Linked DNA regions of Homo sapiens: regions 1 and 2 are each reported to be linked to region 3. The links are microRNA targets in miRTarBase. Many come from high-throughput screens and were not tested one by one. Region 3 holds a microRNA gene; each other region holds the end of a gene's coding sequence.
What was found. Region 3 holds the annotated microRNA hsa-miR-3672 (AUGAGACUCAUGUAAAACAUCUU, at 4,649-4,671, opposite strand). A microRNA usually pairs through its seed, bases 2 to 8, with sites in the 3' UTR of a target mRNA and lowers its output. Matches are read on the target gene's strand: a 7mer-m8 pairs with bases 2 to 8, a 7mer-A1 pairs with bases 2 to 7 and ends in A, and an 8mer does both.

Region 1 (7,198 bases), not on the chromosome of region 3:
AGGAAACAGGAATGCCACACACTGTTGGCAAGAGTGTATTCTGGCTCAATCTATAAGGAATTTGGCATAATCTATCAAAGTTATAGGTGCATATATCCATTACCCAATCTTACACTTTCAGAAATCTTTTTATAAATATATATATACATACCTACAAAATGAGATATATGCAAGTTTATACAGTACTGTATTGCTTGTAAAAGCAAAGGATCAGAAACAACATAGATAGCATGCAGCTCTAAAAAGAGAATGCATTGATGTGGAAAGATCTAAGGTGCAGAACACTGTGCATTCAATGCTGCCATAGGCAAAAATTGAGGGAGTGCAGAAGAATGTATGTGGGTATGCTTGTATGTGCATAAACTATGTCTGGAAGGATATATGTGAAACCAGGGTCACTGGCTGCCTGTGAGAAGGGTGACTTGGGGGACAGAAGTGGGAGAGAAACTTTTCACTGCAAGCCTTCTATATTTTTAAATTTTGGTCCATGTGAATACATTGCCTACTCAAAAAATGATTTTAAAAAATTTAAAACTCTGAAGCAAGGCGAGCGTCCATCATTTCCAAGGCTGATATCAGTAGGAATTGGAACAGAGGTCTGTTAGCCACCCAACGGCAGTGCCTCTCAGCCTGTCAGCGGTGTGCATAGATGACAGTGCCAGGCATCAGGACCTCTGCTGCAGCTGCACTACCTCCTTCCGTGTGCCTCTGGATCTGAGTTCCCAGCACCTGCACGAGGAGGTCCCTTCCTGTTCAGATATGCTATGAGTCCCTGGTCCTCAGGAGTACTGCCTCCAAGCAAACGGCCAGGGACAAGAGCTTCCTGGAATAGGGAACATCGGGATCCTGGACTGTCCCCACCCAAAGCCCCCAAATCCTGACTACTGCTTCCCCAACAAAAACCTGCTTGTACCACCCCAACAGCCTGTCAGCAATTACCCCCAATTACAAACCCAGAGCCCAGCAAGACCTCAATTAGTCTAGAAAGGGGCCTGAGGAGGGGCCACCTGCAAAGCATAGAAAACCCACATATGGCCTCTACCCACAGAGTAGCAACACTCCTCTCAGTCAAGCTTAGGGGCTTGGAGACTTGGAAATTTGGTAACCTATGGCCCCGAGGAGGAGGCTGCTGGTTCTCCCTCCTGCAGTGCCCACTCCATGCAGGGCCTAGTCAAGCACTGTGCCTAGAGGGGCAGTTCCCCAGACTTCCTGCTCTCTCCCTGCTCAGACCACACTCATCCTCCCCACTCACCACCTTCCAAGGCAAACTGCAACATCTGTCGACAAACCTTGCAGAGGGATGCCCTAGGCATCAGCCTCTGAAGCCCACCATGGGCTTGGCTCAGCATGCTGGGAGGAGGACCAAATTCCCATCTCTTTCCAGGGAAGGAAAGCCTCTGAATTATCCTCTGTAGCATCCAGAAACAGGCTGGTCCCTAGTCCAATCTTAGTCCAATCTTCTGCAAATTCCGAGAGGGATCCCATTAGGTTGCTGAGCCCGGGACTTGGCAAGCTCTGAAGTCTTCACTAAATTGGCCCCCATCCTCTTCTTCTTCACAGTGAGTGTGCGTGGCTGTGGGAGAGAAACTGTGTGCATATGGGTGTGTACACAGATCTCAAATCTAGGTGTGAGAAGGTATGCAGAGAGGACTACAGGTTGATAGGAAATGAGTCTCTTACCCGGCAGCTAGATTTGCTCAGATGGAAGGGAGAACTTCCTGACCTCACGGGAACAAACAGAGGTACATGTACGGAAGTGAAATTCAGAGCCCACAGTCAAGTGGTCACTTATCAGCCAGGGGCCTTTGGCAAGTTACTCACCCTCTCTGAGCCTCAGGTTCCTCAAGTGTAAAATGGGAATAGTACCAATCCCTTAGGTTTCTCATAAAAATGAAATGAGATAATGCATGTAATGTTCCTGGCACAAAATAACTGCTTAATAAAGGATGGCTATTTTTTTGGCCAGGTGTGGTAGCTCATGCCTGTAATCCCAGTATTTTGGGAGGCTGAGATGGGAGGACTGTCTGAACCCAGGAGTTCGAGACCAGCCTGGGCAACACAGCGAAACCCTATCTCTACAAAAAATACATAAATTAGTTGGGTACGGCAGTGAGCACCTGTAGTCCCAGCTATTCAGGAGGCGGAGCCCAGGAGGTCAAGGCTGCAGTGAGCCACGATCACGCCACTGCACTCCAGCCTGGGTGACAGAGTGAGACCTTGTGCAACAAAAACCAAAAAACAAAAAAGCTGTTTTTTCCATTTATAACAACAGTAATAACAAGTGCAGCTAAATAGTGGTTTTTAGAGAATGCTATCTATAAGGGAAAGGCCCTGTTAAAGTATGTCTGTCTATCTGTATATCACTGTATTTGGTTTTATCACTTTGGAAACTGTTTGACTGAATCTATTGAAACTAAATATATGCCTACTCCTACAGTTCACTCAAGAGTAGTAAAATACCCTTCACAAAAAGACATGTACAACAATGTGCACAGCAGCTTTATTTATGATATCCAAAAACTGGAAACAAATGTCCCTCAACATATGGATGGATAAGCAAATACTAGAATATTACACAGCAATAAAAAGAAATAAATGTCTGACACATGCAACAAGACCAGTGAATATTAAAAATATGTTGCACAGAAAAAACTAGACATAAAGGCATACATGCTATATGCTCCATTTATACGAGGCTCAAGGCAGGCAAAGGTTATTTATGGTGATAGAAATCCAAATATGGTTTCCCTTTTGAGGCAATATTGATTGGAAAAAGATATGAAGGAACCTTCTGAAGTGCCAGAAATGCTCCATATCTTGATCCAGGTGGTGGTTACATACTGCATTACATGTCAGAATACATCAAGCTGTATATTGTTTACCATCTGTAAGTTATACTGCATACAAAAATATGGAACAAGGCTAAATGCCCATCAACCAATGAGTGGATAAAGAAAATGTGATATATATACACCATGGAATACTACTCAGCCATAAAAAGGAACAAAATAATGGCATTCACAGCAACCTGGATGGAGCTGGAGACCATTATACTAAGTGAAGTAACTCAAGTATGGAAAACCAAATATCCTGTGTTTTCATTTATAAGTGGGAGCTAAGCTATGAAGATGCAAAGGCATAAGAATGACATAATGGACCAGGCGCAGTGGCGCACGCCTGTAATCCCAACACTTTGGGAGGCCAAAATAGGCAGATCACTTGAGGTTAGGAGTTCAAGACTAGCCTGGCCAACATGGTGAAACCCCATCTCTACAAAAAATACAAAAATTAGCTGGGCATGGTGGTGCATGCCTGTAGTCCCAGCTACACAGGAGGTTCAGGCAGGAGAATCACTTGAACTCAGGAGGCTGCAGTAAGCCAAGTTCATGCCACTGCACTCCAGCCTGGGCAACAGAGTGAGACTCTGTCTCAAAAAGAAGAAAAAAAGAATTATATAATGGGGACTCGGGGGGGGAAGCGTAGGAGGGGGATGAGGGATAAAAGATTACACACTGGGTACCGTGTACAATGCTCGGGTGACAAGTGCACCAAAATCTCAGAAATTACCATTAAAGAACTTATCCATGTAAGCAAAAACCACCTGTTCCCCCAAAACTGTTTAAATAAAAAATAAAAAACTGACTGGGCATGGTGGCTCACACCTGTAATCCCAACACTTTGGGAAGTTGAAGCAGGCAAATCACCCTGAGCTCAGGAGCTCAAGACCAGTTGGGCCCACATGGTAAAACCCTGTCTCTACCAAAAATACCAAAAAAAAAAAAAAAAAATTAGCTGAGTGTGTTGGCTCACACCCATAGTCCCAGCTACTTGGGAGGCTGAGGCTGAGATGGGAGGATCACTTGAGCCTGGGAGGTGGAGACTGCGGTAAGCCAAGATTGCACCACTGCACTCCAGCTTGGGCAACAGAGTGAGACCCTGTCTCAAAAAAAAAAAAAGTGTTTCATAAAGTTATAGTGCACACATACACACACACATACACACACACACACACACACACCCTATCTTGGCATGAGGAAAATCTCCAAAGGTAGAACAGTAATACAAAACTCAGCCCTTCTCCCTCCCTTCCTCTGGACTTTGTGCCAGCTAGGCATCTAAAACTGCCTTCCTCCATGGCAGTTGCCTATCATCTTTAGAAAGTGCCCGCTTTGTGGGAGAAAATTGAGCCAGGAATGAGGACCAAGGGGGAAGGGCTCTCTCTGGCATCCCCTCATGGGTTAGCGTGCGGGTGGAGACTGCAGGCCTTACCTTGCAAGCCAGCTGCCCTGAATGCAGAGACTTCTCTGTTTCCAGTAAAGTCTAGTTTGAATGTTTCAGACAGGTCCTCACCATGACTGGGAACTAGGGAGGTGTCCTTGCCCTTGCCTAAGGTTCAGCACCATGGCCATGCAGCTATAATAACCCCAAATGGCAAAGAACTCTCAGATCCTGAGCTGGCTGTCAATGATCAAACCGCTTTTCCTCAGCTACAGTCCCTTTCTTGGAAATTCTAACTTCATTATAACTTCATTATAAGGAAAGTGGCATTTCCCAATTCTGTCCAGCAGAACCATTTTCTAATTCTATTAAAAGGCATTAAGCCCATCCTGGTGGGGAGCACTGAGTGAGAAGTGGAGGGCAGAGTCTCTGCCCATCAGCGCTTACAGTCTGGGTGTGGAGAAAGGCAACAAGGCAACTTTTAAGAACACATCATGTTCCCCAGCAAGCCTGAGGCCTACTGGCAAGGCACTCACTGTTCAGAGCTGAACAAAATGGCTTTGGGCCATAGATGTCATGAGGGATATCAGAGGAAACTTGTCAGCAGCTCCCACCACCCTAGAATCCGCCTCTGAGAGCATCCCACGGGTCTTTGGAGGGAAGAGGGCCTCACTTGGCCCAGGACCCAGACCCTTCTGCCTTTTTCCCAGTTGGCCTCCACCATGAAAAAGGCCGACAACTGCCCTGCATTCTGCCTGATTGACGATGGGGCACATACTCCTTGGGACAAAATGGTGTTGGAGGACTCATACCCCAACATCAGCAAGGTAAAGAGGAGCCCAGAGCTCTGGTCTACTGCCTCTCAAGCCCTTCCTGGGGGAGAAAGAGGGGAGCTCAGTGAGACACTTAACAACAGGAAACAGCTCTCATGTGTGAGTTCTTCCCAGAGTAGGAGGTCGCTTCTCTTTCCTCTTCCTCAATATCTCTCTCTCTCTCTCCACTCCCCTATTCTCTCCCAAGCACATATGTGAGTAACTGACTTTGCTAATCCCAACCAGGCAGACTAATACCCACTGGCTTCAGACCTGGTGCTATGTGGGTGTCTGCTGCTGCACCTTGTTGGTCTGAGCAGCAAACTCAGCAGAGTTTCGAGACAGAGATAAAGCCTGTGTGAGTGGCCTGTGCATGTTAAAGTGTATCTGGAACGTGCTCAGTACCTGAGCTTCTCTGTGGTCTGTGCGGCAGTCCCATCATGAAAACACCCAGGTGGCAGCCCAGTCACCCGAATCACAGGCCAAGGACATCAGAGAATCAACAGGCTTCTCGGAGTCAGGCTTGTAAACCTGGAGCCCATTGGTCCTTCTGCACCGTGAGATGCGAAAGTGAGCAGCGTGTGAAAAGCCTTAGGGTCTGCACATTGGCTTGACATGTTTTCCACCAACATGTGCAAAATCTGAATTAGTACGTGTAGCTGGTGAGTGTGAGAGAAGTAGGAGGGGAGGGAGAACTAGAGGGGATTTGGAGTTGACAGAGGGAGAAGGAGAGAGAAGTGGATGGAGTAACGTGACCTGAGTGGAGGGACACCGAGTCCCTGAGGTGTGGGTGCAAAGGGCCCTGTGAGGGGCCGGGAGGGAGTGAGTGCTGACAGTTGTTGAGGCGTGGAGTGTATGGGGATGTACTAATAGACACAGTGAAGCTTCCCTTTGCTAGCCAAGCACCGCAGAGGCCATCCCTCCAAGCAGAGGGTTGCAGCAAGCTCTATTCTCTCCCGCTCAGGAGCGGGAAGCCGCCGGGTGTTTCGGGGTCCCGCTAGGAAAGGGGACAGCGGAACCTGGTTCAGGCAGCCGGCGGCGGCGCGGGACGAGCTGAGTGGTTCTAGCGAAGCGCTGCCTGCCTCAGAGCAGCCGCGACGCTTCCCTAGTAGAGCTGGGCCGCCGGAAGCCCGAGGCGCGGGCGGCTTCTGCCGCTGTTGCAGGATTCCCGGCCCTGGGGAGAAAAGCGTCTGTATCAGAGCCGTGTAGATTGCTCGCGCCGGCTGTCGGGACCTCCGAGGCGCGGGGCCAGGCTGCGAGGAGGCGCGGGAGCTGAGACTGCGCTCAATCGGCGGTTCACTGGAACCGTATCCGCAGGCGGCGCTACGGTGGGACCACGGTCAGGAGGCGCCGGTGGCTGCTGAATTGCAGCTGCGGGACCCTGGAAAACTGGGGCAAAGAGGCAGTGAGTTCTGCCCAGCCCACCACCCTGGCCTTTGGAGGTGAGCGCCGCCCCAAGGTCACTAAGCCGGGGGCCCTGCGTCGCCCCAATGCCGCGGGGAGAAAAGGAACCGGCCCTGGCGTCCACAAAACCTAGGCACAGTATGCCCTGTTCAGAGAGGATCCCGACCTCGCCAGCAACCAGCCTACCTCCGAAGGTTGAGAAGTAAATCAGGGCGCCCCGCACCGTTTCCTGGAGCGCCCGGTTCACCCACCTCTGGCTGGGCCGGCAAGGAGAGGATTCTGTTCTCTCCCTAGATTCCTCTATCTCCAGCCCGAAGCCCCTGGCTTTTCCGCAGAAGCCTGGAGGGGACCTGAAAGTAATCATTCTGCCAGCTTTCCCGCCCGCATTTTCTTGCCTGTTTTCTGAGCCTTCGAATGCCGGACAGCCATGTGAAGGCACATCTTGGGGAGACCGATTCCAGCCCTTCCCAGGGTGCACGCATCAGGCATCCTCTTCTTCACCAGGGCTGGGGATTCTGTTCCTCTACGGGACAGTCAGAAATCAGTATTTTCAGAGCAGAACTCCTTTCTATTCTGAAAATCCTTCAGAGGAACTCCTTCATTTGCCCCCAACCCCTACACACACACACACACACACACACACGCACATGCATACACACACAGGCTCTTTAAAGGCTGAAAAGGGAGCCGAGTGTGGAATTCAGGGAAGTGATGACACACACAACAATGCTGTTACACCTGGCTGCTGCAGGGCTGAGCAGCGG
Region 2 (7,198 bases), not on the chromosome of region 3:
TTCTTCCTTAAATACTCAGGGAACCCCACTGGGGCAGAGAATACGGGAAATGCTAAAACAAAAAAATAAAAGCTGTACCCACATGGATCACATATGACAGCAATCCCCAAACTTTGTGACACCAGTTTCCTGGATGACAATTTCTCCATGGACTCAGTGTTGGGGGATGGTTTCAGGATGATTTAAGCACATTACATTGATTGTGCATTTTATTATTACATTGTTATATATAATGAAATAATTATACAGTTCAACATAGTGTAGAATCAGTGGGAGCCCCGAACTTGTTTTCCTGCAACTAGACAGTCCCATCTGGAGGTGATGGGGGACTGTGACAGATCATCAGGCATTAGATTTTCCTAAGGAGCGCACAACTGAGATCCCTCCCATGCACAGTTCACAATAAGGTTTGTGTTCCTATGAAAATCTAATGCTGCTACTGATCTGACAGGAGGCAGAGCTCAGGCGATAATGTGAATGACAGGGAGCAGATGTAAATACAGATGAAGCTTCACTCCACTGCTCACCTCCTGCTATACAGCCCAGTTCTAACAGGCCACAGACTGGTACTGGTCCATGGCCCTGGGGTTGGGGACCCCTGACCTATGAGAATTCATAGGCCTTAAGTTAGAATTCAAGCCCTGAAGGGAAAGGAGTACCTGGTCACATGTAGATAAGAAAAATGCCTTTTAAGATGATCATAAACCACAAAAGCTTTGTGTAAATCATGGGTAGGCAGCTAGTGATGTCCTCTGAGGAAGTAGGAAGAGCATGTGGTCACTACTTACACTATCTGACCCCGTGCCTTCTGATTGACAGGAGGAACCCATCACTTCCCTGGGGAAGGAGCTCCTTCTCTATCCCTGTGGTCAGCAGGACCAGCTGCCTGACTACCTGGAGCTGTTTGAGTGACAGCCTCCATCAGGGTCATCCTACAGCCTCCAAGCGGGCTTTCCCCTGGACAAATGCCACTGCAACATTTATGTGTGAAGCCAAAATCACCCTGCAGCAGAGCCAATACTGATCAACTGAAAGTAAAGTATCCATGGAGTCCTCATTGACACCTCTTTTCTGCACAAATACTGGAATTCAATGTCAAGAGAAAATGACCTCTGCTCAAAAGGGAGAAGAGTCTCAATTTCAGCAAGTACCTGTCATGAAGGGTATGACCTTAATGATGTACATAAAATAAAACAAATGAAGAAATGGAAAACTTTTAGAAATTAAGGTGTACTTGAAAACGAATATCTATCATATGACCCCTGCACTCCCTCTGTATCATCTCAGGAGGTTTCAGGGGCCTGTTGACATGAAGTTTCGAAGTTTCATGTTGGCTTTGGAATGGTAGCAAAAGCCTTTCCTGGCTGAGATGATGCTTAAAACACACCTCACTTATTGTACATGTTGGAACCAGGACATGAGAGACATAGAAAAACAGAAGTCATGAATGTAAATTGAATGAGAGGCTTAACATGCATGAAAATACAGATGGACCTGCAGGAAAGTGAGCAAACATCGCTGAGTTTGTTTTCTTGTTCGGGAGAATGGGGCCGGGGCTGGCCTGGCCTCCCCTGGATATACTCTATAGTGCACCAAAAGGATAAAGCATCTGTACATGTATTTTTTTATTTTTTATCAGAAGTGCTTAGACAAGAACAGAATAAGCAGGCTGTTTGGATGCTACTTGTGGTTGAATTGTGTTCCCCCAAAATATATGGTGAAGTCTTAACCCCCATCCCCGTGAATGGGACCTTGTTTGGAAATAGGGTCTTTGCAGATATAGTCAAGATGAGGTCACATTGGATTAGGGTGGGCCCCAAATCCAATGACTGGCATCCTTAGGAGAAGAGAGAGTTTTGGTAATAGACACAAATGCAGTGGGAAGAAGACCAGGGGACAAGAGGCAAGTTGGAGTGATGCAGCCGGAAGGGAAGGGACACCAAGGATCTCCGGCCACCAGCAGAAGCCAGCAGAGAGGCATGGGACAGGTTCCCCACAAGCCTTAGAAGGAAGCATGGCCCTGACTTCAGAATTCCAGACTCCAGAACTGGAAGAATAAATGTCTGTTGTTTTAAGCTGCTTAGTTCATGCTGAGTTCATGCTGACTTGTTACTATAGCCCCAGAAAGCTAATACAGTCGTTTATGTAATTACATAACCTGACACACAAGATCGACCCATTCACTGCTGCCCAGTCCACCATTTTCATAATGAAGTAGAAATGGGAGGTAAGAAAAACATTCCAGCCAGTTCTGTTTAGCCCTGGCACACATATTTGTCCCGTCAGGAATCTTATGCCCTCCTGGAACCCCCGCCCACCTCAGTCCAGTCCCAGTCAGGCGAACGGCCTCTGGACAGGGACTGAGGTGGCTCTGAGCCACTGGAGATCATTTTTCTTGGAGGATGGAGATTGGCTAGTACCTCTGGCCTAACTGTGTAGGTCAATACTCTTTTACATTGCCTTCTAATAAAAGCAGAATGATACAGCAGTGTTGTTACAAGCTTGTTGGTTGCGTACAGCACTCATTGACTATAAAATGTAGCCAGAGAAGGGGATGGTTGGCATGTGTGTTCTAATGAGAAAGATGATGGTGATTATTATTTTTAGAGACAGAGTCTTGTTCTGACACCCTGGCTGGCATGCAGTAGTGCGATCACAGCTCACTTCAGCCTCAAGCGATCCTCCTGCCTCAAACCCCCAAAGTGCTAGGATTATAGATGTGAGATACTATGCCAGGTAGAGATAGCTTTTAAACATAGATCATTGTTTAACTCTTTCTTGAAATGTTCCATGTGGTTTATATTGTTAAACTATTGTAAGGATCCATCTCTTGGCTTTTGTTCCTATGATTCAACAGTCATGGCATTATTGAGAAACTTCTCAACTCTTCCTACCATTTTCTGTATAATCTTGGACAGGACAGTTTGTCTCTGAGCCTCAGTTTTTGCTTCTGAACAAAAAAAAATATGATTCAACTGGGTGATCTTTGTTATTTTCATCCAATTCTGAAATTTTAAGGTTCTAGTGCTTCTCACTGGAATGAATGGAAAGTACCCACTTGTCACCACTAATAATTAGGAAGATGTAAGATTCCAGTACTGGCCAGGTGCAGTTGCTCATGCCTGCAATCCCATCAATTTGGGAGGCCAAAGTGGGTGGATCATGAGTTCAGGAGTTCAAGACCAGCCTGGCCAACATGGTGAAACCCCGTCTCTACTCAAAATACAAAAATTAGCCGGGGACGGTGGCATGCACCTGTAATCTCAGCTACTCTGGAGGCTGAAGCAGGAGAATTGCTTGAACCTGGGAGGCGAAAGTTGCAGTGAGCCGAGATCACACCACTGTACTCCAGTCTGGCTACAAAGCAAGACTACGTGCTGGGGGAAAAAAAAATCCAATACCCCCCTGTGCCTACAGTTATCTTGTAGGAAATAATTGTGGCCATATCCAGATATAACTACACAAAGCAACATCCTATTAAAGGAAGATTTAGAAAACAGGAAGTCACCCAACTGAATTCACCCAATATTACACAGGGGAGCAGATGTGGGTTCCGGACTAGTTTATCCTGTTGGTTGCTGATTGATAGAGGAATACACTGTCCAGTGTTGGATGATATGATGGCACGAATGACACTTGAAATTCTTAGGGAAGGAGAATGGTTTACAGATTTCAGAAACTGAATTCAACCGAATGGAATTCAGGAGGCCTGAATGGTCATCCGAGCAGTGCTGTGGTCTCTGTCCTGCCTACATTTACCCTGAGTTACGGTCTGAGGTGAAGATGTCCAAACTCTGACCCTGGTCTCCTCCTCCTGTTGCCTCTGCAAGCCCAGCTCCTTGACCTGCCTGCGCAAGGTTTCTGGGTCTAGGAATGCTGCTTTCATGTTACTGTCCTGGTTCTCAAGCCTAGGGGCTCTGGTCTGCAGACCCTGACTCACTGGGACTGTGGCCAAATACTCCTGCCCATCTAGATTCTTCTCTCCCACAATTCTGGAATCTCCCGCCCACAGTCATGTAAGATTTTCTGGCTGCCACCGTATTGCCAGATGCTCACAGACCTATCAGGTCACTTGCAAGGACCCTGCTTCTGGCCTCCTGCCCTACCCTGCTGCAGTAGGATGCACAAGGAAGGTCGCTTGGCCCTGAGTGTCACCAGCAGTGCTAGTCAGTCTGAAAAAGTGTTTTCTGGCTGGGCACGGTGGCTCATGCCTGTAATCCCAGCATTTTGGGAGGCCAAGGCAAGTGGATCACGAGGTCAGGAGATCGGGACCATCCTGGCCAACATGGTGAAACCCCGTCTCTACTAAAAAAAAAAAAAAAAAAAAAATACAAAAATTAGCTGGGCTTGGTGGCACATGCCTTGTAATTCCAGCTACTCAGGAGGCTGAGGCAGGAGATAGCTTGGGAGTCAGAGGTTGCAGTGAGTCGGAGGTTGCAGTGAGCCGGAGGTTGCAGTGAGCCGAGACCACTGCACTCCAGCCTGGTGACAGAGCAAAAGTCCGTCTAAAAAAAAAAAAGGTGCTTTCTGGCCCAAAGCTTACCCTAAAAATGGAGAAAACACAGGGCAAGTTAGGAAAAAAAGGATCAGAGAAAGAAAAAAGTAGATGGGCAATGGTCAGTCAGGTCACCAAAAATACCTCCGGGACATTTCCACCCAAAATTGCCTATCTGAGCTAATGCTTTGGAATTAAGCATCCTTTGCTAATATGACATGAAATCTGCTTTTAGATTAAAAAAAGAAAAATTCATGGCTTAAAGTTTTGCAACTGCCACCTTTTGTAAAGGCAGTTTTCTTAATGCACTGGAGTTCTAACATGTTTATGGCCCACACATACATATTTTGGGGCTCCTGCTATTTGGTGAGAGAAGACACAAATGCATGGGCTATGCATGGATATGTTTCCATGGGGCCTCTTTGCTTTCATATTTATCCAGAACGTGGTACATGCTTTCCTTTCAGGCTGCAATTCACAGGGTTTGTTTTGTTTTGTTTTAGAACATACGTTTTCAACGACTGTATCTTTAAATAATCTGTTTGAATTTAGCTTTTCTCTTCCTTGGGAATAGCTATAAATGTTGGATTTTTCTTTGCTTTTCATTTGGTATTCTCACCCCCATTGTTTTCATCTCTCCCTTCTTTTCTGTTGTATTTTGGGAGAGCTCTTGCATCTGTCCTTTTCCCATCAGTGATTAAATTTTCAGCAATGTTAATTCTGCACTTCACTGCCTCCAGGTGGATTTTAGTACCACTTTTACATGTCTAGCTACTTCCCATCCTACCTTCTCTCCCTATGCAAAGATCTTTAGGCTTCCCACTGCTTCCCCAGACTGACAATTGTCAGGAAGCTTAAATGATAAAAGTACCCTGTTTTAATTGTGGTAAAAACACATTATTTGATAATCAGGCTGCTCAGTATAGTAGAGAGCAGGCCCAGCAGGTTTGGGGTGCGGTCCTGGGTATACCATAACTAGCTGTGTGGAGTCGTTAAAGAAAAACAGTAACTAAGCCTGTCTGAGCTTCAATTTCATTTCTCAGACAGTCGTTACTAAAGTCACCTGGGTTCTGACGATTAGGAAAGAAATATGTTAAATATCTGGCATAGAGTAAGCGCTCCATGGGCCCAGCATGGTGGCTTATACCTGAAATCCCTGCTCCTTGGGAAGCTGACACAGGAAGACCATTTGAGCCCAGGATTTTGAGACCCGCCTGGCCCACATAGTGAGAACCCACATCTCTACAAAACATACAAAAATTAGCCAGGTGTGGTTGGCATGTGCCTGTAGTCCCAGCTACTCAGGAAGCTGAAGCCACAGGATCACGTGAGCCCAAGAGTTCGAGGCTACAGTGAGCTATGATTGTACCAATGCACTCCAGCCTGGGCGACAGAGTGAGACCCTGTCTTTAGAAAGAAAAAAAAAAGAGAGAAAAGAAAGCCAGCTCTCCATAAATAGTAATTGGGTAATTGCATTTTCCTTTTCCTAGTGAATTATGAGTCCAACAAAGCCAGGATCCTTGCACTCCAGCCTTCCCCTTTGCCAACTCAGTTTATGTGACCACTGGGCTGTTTATCCCCCACCCTTGTTTCCTAGAATTTCTGGGATCAATTTTAAGAAGGAAGGGGAAACTTCTGAAGAGTAAGGTATATAATGACGAACCACACAATACATTCATTTGCCAGTTGACCTGCAGAGAGTCGGCTCACTCTGTGCCGGGTGAGTCCCGGACGGAGGCTGCCATGGATGGCTGGCCCTCACTGAGTCCCTGGGGCGACTGTGGAGGCTGCAGAAGGGTCTTGAAGGAGCACAGCCCTACTTCTCTCCCCACAGCAATGCCTGCCCTTCCCAGCCTGTGACCTTCCCCAAGGCGGCTCTGCCCTGCCCCTCCTCCCCTATGGTTCTGTCCACCTTCTTGCTAGAATAGCAGATATGCCAGACACAGCCGAGGAGACACTCGGGGTGACTACTCCAGAGGGCATGTTCAAAGGATCAGTAATGCACAGTTTGAAAGGCACCTCTGCTGACAGGAAAGAACATATTCTGTGTGTTGGAAAAAACTACCATCAAAACCCCCCAACCAACTGGCACCATCCCCATAGTTTTTGGCAGCAACAGCAAAGCACGGAGCCCTGCCAGGAGAAACAGCTTTGAATTAAAATATAAAGCTAATCAGAATATGGATCACACAAAGCTGCCAGTCATTTGATGTGTGTGGGGAGTAAAACACCCCTGCCCTGCTAAGAAACTGCCCAAGGTCATTGTCTCTTATCAGCAATTCTCACAAACAGTTATCAAGTCTTTTTTTAAAAAAAGCAAGTATTCCCACCTGCTGTCCCCTCCTACTCAAATCATTTTTTCTTTTCTTTTTTTTTTTTTTTTTGAGATGGAGTCTCACTCTGTCACCCAGGCTGGAGTGCAGTGGCGCGATCTCAGCTCACAGCAACCTTTGCCTCCCGGGTTCAAACAATTCTCTGCCTCAGCCTCCCAAGTAGCTGGGATTACAGGCACCCACCACCAAGCCCGGCTAACTCTTTTTTATTTTCAGTAGAGACGGGGTTTCACCATCTTGGCCAGGCTGGTCTTGAACTCCTGACCTCATGATCCACCCGCCTCGGCCTCCCAAAGTGTTGGGATTACAGGCGTGAGCCACCGCGCCCGGCCATCACTCTTTCAATGTAACATGTTGGAATCCTGCATGA
Region 3 (7,198 bases):
AGTGCGCCACACCTCCAAGTCAGCCACATGATCTCAAGGGTAAACAATTAATACGCTATAGTGTACTGTGTCGCCAGATGATTTTGCCCAGCTGTAGGCTAATACAAGTGTTCTGAGAATATTTAAGGTAGGCTAGTCTAAGCTATTATGTTTGCTAAGTTAGGCATATTAAATACATGTTCAACTTACAATAATTTCAACTTACAACGGGTTTATCAGGACATAACTTTATTTTAAGTTGAGGAGCATCTGTACTTATTACTTATTATTTGCAAAAATTAAAAACTGATTTTGTCAAGGTTTGGGTGGAATATGGAGTAAATGCTGCGAAAGGTTTGGGAGACCAATTGAGTAATATGTAGTTGGCAAGACTGTTTGTACCCAAAGCAACTTGCAAATTTGCAATTGCTTGTACTTAGCAAGTAAACTCTGTGTCTTCCATATAGAAATACTTGCATCTATGCACACAGGGCCATGCACAGAATTGTTGATTATGGTCTTGTTTTTAGTATTGAAAATTTGAAGATAACAAAAATGCCCATGAATAAAAGAATAGCAAATGAAATATAGAATGTTTATATTATAGGATAATATAAAGCTAGTAAAAGGAATGAGCTAGATATACACGCAATGGCATAAATATTGCACCAAGACATTTTGATAAGTGAAGAAAAAAGTTTCAAGACAATGTGTACAGAATAAAACCTATTTTGTGATCATGCATGTGTATGCACATGAACTCTTACACACACATGCACACACACGCGTGTGCCAATAAAAATTGAGGTTGGAGTTATTGGTCTCATCTACGTTTTGATTTTTTAAAAGAAGAATGCAATTAAAATGATTAAAGAGAAAAAGAAACCCTAAAGTCTTCAAATTAGAGGATGTAAAATGCTGAGAAATACTCCCTTGTAAAAAATTATTCTCTTTGTTCACAGCCACCAACTGTTTGTTCCTACACATCCATCCTGGGCATGGATCCACAATTCTACTTTTCCTCAGCACCGAGCCACAAATCTGTTCAAGCCAATGACTTCCTTATTGCGCTCACAGACATTAAACCATATCCAAAAAGAAAACTAGTCTAAGATCAGAGCAATTTGAAATTAGAGTCCATCCCAAGTTACCAAAGTGTCCAAAGTCTTCCATCATCTAATAGGTAGAAGGGCTGAAGGCCAAAACAAAAAGAAAAGGGTCAAATATATGTATTTTCAGAACTCATGCTTCTCTGCATGTGACAGTCTGAGCATTTGGCCCTAACTCAATTATTCCAATCAAGATTTTTCTATTTAAAATTTTCAAAATTGTAAATTGCCAGCCTCTTCTGCATCTTCATCAATTAGTCAGCTAGAACTTGCCTGTCAGTTCCCCAAACCAAATTACATGACATTTACTATTTTTTAAAAGAAAACGATTGAAGAGTGATGAAGCAAGATATTGGAATATGAGCATCCAGTGCTGGACTCCTCAAAGAAGCATCAATTTGAAAAATTACCCACTCATGAAAGTACCTTCACAACAGTTAAGGAATCTATGTAAGTGATTGCAGCAACTGGGTGGAGCAATGAAATAAAATAAAATGCATTGAAAAGGGTATGTGGTGTGTGAGACAGTTACACAAATAACCACACCACCCCTCCCCAAAGCCCTCACAGTGTAGCATGGACAGACACATCCTCCACATGGAAGAATGACAGTGGATAAGCATTCACCTTATCTATAGACCCCAGCACCAGGCAAGCACCCATGGACCTAGGCTCTAGGGCCACCCCAATGCCAAGCTAGTTACCACAGCCACAGGCTCCGGGCCCATCTCTGTGGAACAAGGCTTCAGGCCCACCCAGTGTTGAGCCAGCCCAGACAGCATCAGGCTCCCAGCAGGCCCTCATGGACACAGACTGGCACCTGTGAACCCAGGCCCTAGGCCAACCTCAACACAAGGCAAGTTCCTGTGGCCCAAGGCTCTAGGCCAGCATCTGTGGACCCAGACTTCAGGCCAGCCCCTATGACCCAGGTCCAAACCAGACCCCACAGTCTCAGACTCCAGACATACTCTGGTGTCAGACTGGCTCCTGTGGACCCAAAACATAAGCACACCCCCACACAAAGCTGACCCTCCCCAACTCAGGCTCAAGTTCTACCTCCCTGCAAGGTTGAACCCCATGTACCCAGAGCCAGGCTCAACCCTATGAACCAGGACACCAGGCCTACCTGTACAGGCTTGAGCTCAAGGCCTGGCCCTGCAGATCCGTACACAAGGCCAGCTATAGTGAACCTAGGCACCAGGCCCTAAAACAAGGCCAGCCTGCCCAAGAACTCCAGACCCAAGTCCGAACACGGATTCCATCTGCTGACCCAACAAGACCCTCTAGCCAAGCTGACTGGTAAAGTCAGCTTCCCTGCCAAACCCAGTCTGTAAAGACTGAAAGAGGTGCCTACTTTTTCAAATGTGCAGATACCAACACAAAACTACAAGGATCATGAATAATCAAAGAAATATGACACCACCCAAGGAACAGAATAAAGTACCAGTAGCTGACCTTAAAAATAGAGATCTATGAAACGCCTGATAATTTTAAATAATGATCTTTAAAAGTTCAGGGAGGCCAGGCACGATGGCTCACGCCTGTAAACCCAACACTTTGAGAGGTCAATGCAGGAAGATTGCCTCAGCCCAGGAGTCCAAGGCCAGCCTGGGCAACGTGGTGAGACTGTCTCTACAAAATATTTAAAACTTAGGTGGCTCATGCCTGTAATACCAGCAATTTGGGAGGCCGAGGTGGGCAGATCACTTGAGGCCAGGAGTTTGAGACCAGCCTGGCCAACATGGTGAAATGCTGTCTCTACTAAAAACACAAAAATTAGCTGGTCGTGGAGGTGGGCGCCTGTAATCCCAGCTACTCGGGAGGCTGAGGCAGGAAAATTGCTTGAATCTGGGAGGCAGAGGTTGCAGTGAGTTAAGATCACACCACTGCACTCCAGCCTGGGGGACAGAGCAAGCCTCCATCTCAAAAAAATATAAATATATCCAGGCATTGTGGTACATGCCTATAGTCCCAGCTTCTTGTCCCAGCTACTTGGAAGGCTGAGGCAGGAGGATCACTTGAGCTCCAGAGGTTGAGGCTGAAGTGAGCTGTGTTCATGCCACTGCGCTCAAGCCTGGGTAACAGAATGAGACCCTGTCTCAAAAAAACAAAAAACAAAAACAAACAAAAACTACGAAGTACAAGATAGACAAACAACCAAACAAAATCAGGAAAACATTATATGAGCAGAACAACAAGTTCGACAAAGAGAAAAAAAAAAAAAAACATTAAAAAATAACCAAGCAGAAATCCTGGAGCTAAAGAACGCAACGATTCAATGACTGAACTGATATATTCCACAGATGTCTTCCTCAGCAGACTCAAACAAAAAAAGAATCAGTGAGTTCAAAGACAGCTTATTCAAAATTACTCAGTCAAAACAACAAAAGGAAATAAGAATAAAAAATTATGAAGAAAGTATACAGAATTTATGAGACACAATCAGATGGACCAATATACACATTATTTGAGGCCCAACAGAATAGAGACAAGAGGGGCAGAAAATTTCTTTAAGTAAATAATGACAGAAAAATTCTCATATCTGAAGGAAGTGAACATCTAGATCCACGAAGGTAAAGAGCCCCAAATATATTAAACATAAAGACACCTCTTCAAGATACATAATAAGCACATTCTCAAAATTCAAAGACAAAGAGAGAATTTTGAGAGCAGCAAAAGAAAACAGGCTTGTCACATACAAACCAACTTCCACTGGAGTATCAGAGGATTTTGCAGCAGAAGTCCTGCAGGCTAAAAGAGTAGGATGACATATACAAAGTGATAAAATAATAAAACTGCTAATCAGTAGTTCTTTATCTGGCAAAGTTGCCCTTCAGATATGCAGTAGAGATAAAGACTGTCCCAGACAAAGAAAAGCTAGGGGGATTAAACACCCCTAGACCTGCCTTACAAGAAATGCTAAAGAAAGGCCTGCAAGTTGAAAAGAAAGGACACTAACAACAAAAAGAGAGAAAAGTAGAAAACTCCCAAAAAACAAACATAGTCAAATTAAGAATACTCTAATGTGGCCAGGCGCAGTGGCTCACGCCTGTAAACCCAGCACTTTGGGAGGCCAAGGCAGGCAGATCACGAGATCAGGAGTTCGAGACCAGCCTGGCCAACATAGTGAAACCCCATCTCTATTAAAAACACAAAAATTAGCCAGGCATGGTGGTCCACACCTGTAGTCCCCGCTACTCGGGAGGCTGAGGTAGGAGAATCGCTTGAAACCAGGAGGCAGAGGTTGCAGTGAGCCAAGACAGCGCCACTGCACTCCAGCCTGACTCCGTTAAAAAAAAAAAAAAAAACTCTTACGTTATGATGTGGTACATAAATCATGTTTGACTCTAGCACAAAAGTCAAAAGAAAAAGGTATGAAAATAACTATAATAACTTTTTAGTATACACAATATAAATGATATGAAGTGTGGCATCAATAACATAAAATGGGGGGAAGAAAAAGTTGAAGTGTAAGGTTGTTTTAACATGTTCAAAGTTATCAGCTTTAATAGTAATCTTTGTGATTATCATGAGACTCATAAAACATCTTGTAATAGTCTAAGATGTTTTACATGAGTCTCATGGTAATCACAAAGAAAAAAATGTGTAGTAAATACACAAAAGATAAAAAAAGAAATCAATGCATACCATTACAGAAATAAATCACAAAGGTACACAGAAATAGAGGAAGAAAGACATAGAGGAATGACAAAATGTCAGAAAGCAATTAACAAAATGGCAATAATAAACACTTAACCTATTAATAAGTTATTTAAATATAAATGAATTAAATTTACCAATAAAAAAACAGAGTGACTAAATCGATTTTAAAATTAGAATCCAACTATATGCTAAGTAAGAAGACTCACTTTACTTTTAAGAACACAGAGAGGATGAAAGTGAAGAAATGGAAAAAGATATTCCATGCAAATAGTAACTAAAAGAGAGCTTAGTTGGCTACATTTATTTTACTTACATCAGAAAAAAACCAGACTTTAAGTCAAAAACTGTCACAATAGACAAAGAAAGTCATTATATCATGATAAAGGGGTAAATTCATCAACAAGATGTAACAAATGTAAATACATCTATGTATGCAATATTGGAGCACCTAAATATAATATATAAGGTATTTATTAACAGAACTGAAGGGAGAAATAGACAGCAATAAAATAACAGTCCACTTCAATACCCGATGTTCAACAATGGACAGATTATCCAAAGAGAAAATGAGTAAGAAAACAAGTGGCTTGAACAACACTATAGACCAAATGGACCTAACAGACATATACAGAACATTCTATTCAACAGCATCAGAACATGTAGTCTTTTTAAGCGTATAAAGAAAATATTCCATGACAGAGAATATGTAAGGCCAAAAAACAAGTCTAACAAATTTGAGATGATTGAAAATATATCATATATATATTTCACTTCAATTTATTTATTGTGCTAATAATTTTTAATTTTTAAAATAAATTATTGTGGGTACATAGTAGGTATATATATTTGTGAGGTACACAAGATGTTCTGATATAGGCATGCAATGCGTACCAATCACATCATGGAGAATAAGGAATCCATCCCCTCAAGCACTTATCCTTTGTTTTACAATCCAATTGCACCTTTTTGTTATTTTTAAATGTATAATTAAGTTATTATTGAGTATAGTAACCCTGTTGTACTGTCAAATGTAGATCTTATGTTCTTTCTATGTTTTTGTACCCATTCTTTCTATGTTTTTGTACCCATTAACCATCCCCACATTCCCTTCCTGGTCCTCTGCTACTACCCTTCCCAGCTTCTGGCAACCATCCTTCTACTCTCTATGTCCATGAGTTCAATTGTTTTGATTTTTAGACCCCACAAATAAATTAGAACATGTGATGTTTGTCTCTCTGTGCCTGGCTCATTTCACTTAACATAAAGATCTCCAGTTCCATCCATTTTGATCTTTTTAATGACTAAATAATACTCCATTGTGTACAGGTACAACATTTTCTTTATCCATTAATCTGTTGATGGACGCTTAAGTTGCTTCCAAATCTTGGCTATTGGGAACAGTGTTTCAACAAACATGGGAGTGCAGATACTTATTTCCTTTCTTTGGGTATATGCTCCACAGTGGGATTGTTGGATCCTCCAAAATGTTCTCTATAGTAGTTGTACTATTTTACATTCTCACCAACAGAGTGGGAGTCTTCCCTTTTCTCCACATCCTCGCCAGCATTTGTTAGTGGCTGACTTTTGGATATAAGCCATTTTAATTGAGGTGAGATGATATCATATGGGAGTTTCAATGTGCATTTCTCTGATAATCAATGATGTTGAGCACATTTTCATATGCCTGTTTGCATTTGTATGTCTCCTTTTGAGAAATGTCTATTAAAATTTTCTTGCACATTTTTGATCAAATTAATATCCTTTTTTTCTACAGAATTTGAGTTTCTTATATATTCTGGTTACCAACACCTTGTCAGATAGGTAGTTTGCAAATATTTTCTCCTATTCCATGGGTTGTGTCATCATTTTGTTGTTTCCTTAGCTGTGAAGAGGCTTTTAACTTAATATAATCCCATTTGTCCATTTTTGCTTTGGTTGCCTATGCTTGTGGGGTATTGCTTAAGGAGTTATTTTTCCCCAGACCAGTGCTCTGGAGAGTTTCCCCCAAGTTTTCTTGTAGCAGTTTCATAGTGTGGGGTCTTAGATTTAAGTCTTTAATCCATTTTGATTTGGTTTTTGTATATGGCAAGAAATGGGAGTCTAGTTTCGTTCTTCTGCATATGGATATCCAGTTTTCCCAGCACCATTTATTGAAAAGACTGTCTTTTCCCCAGTATAAGTTCTTGGCACCTCTGTCAAAAATGAGTTCACTGGAGGTGTGTGGATTTGTTTCTGGGTTCTCTGTTCTGTTCCATTAATGTATGTGTCTGTTTTTATGCCAGTACCATAGTGTTTTGGTTACTATAGCTCTGCAGTATAATTTGAAGCCAGGTAATATGATTCCTTTAGTTTTGTTCATTTTGCTTAGAATAGCTTTGGTTATTCTGGGACTTTTGTGGTTCCATATAAATATTAGGATTTTTTTTTCTATTTCTGTAAATAACGTC

Region 1: miRTarBase lists FOXL2NB as a target of hsa-miR-3672. Seed matches in the 3' UTR shown: 7mer-m8 at 3,418-3,424.
Region 2: miRTarBase lists SH2D4A as a target of hsa-miR-3672. Seed matches in the 3' UTR shown: 8mer at 1,131-1,138.

The regions. Positions count from the first base shown.
Region 1 is chr3:138,949,271-138,956,468 of GRCh38, reverse strand. FOXL2NB (FOXL2 neighbor) reads right to left here. Exons shown (of 3, transcript NM_001040061.3): 2 at 6,830-6,949; 3 at 2,479-6,204. The coding sequence ends at 5,897. Among named protein-coding and RNA genes, the nearest start is that of FOXL2NB, 5.7 kb to the right of the region's middle.
Region 2 is chr8:19,393,731-19,400,928 of GRCh38, forward strand. It overlaps SH2D4A (SH2 domain containing 4A), which reads left to right. Exons shown (of 10, transcript NM_022071.4): 10 at 820-2,488. The coding sequence ends at 912. Among named protein-coding and RNA genes, the nearest start is that of SH2D4A, 84 kb to the left of the region's middle.
Region 3 is chrX:121,368,459-121,375,656 of GRCh38, reverse strand. It overlaps MIR3672 (microRNA 3672), which reads right to left and starts at 4,685; the gene lies at 4,604-4,685.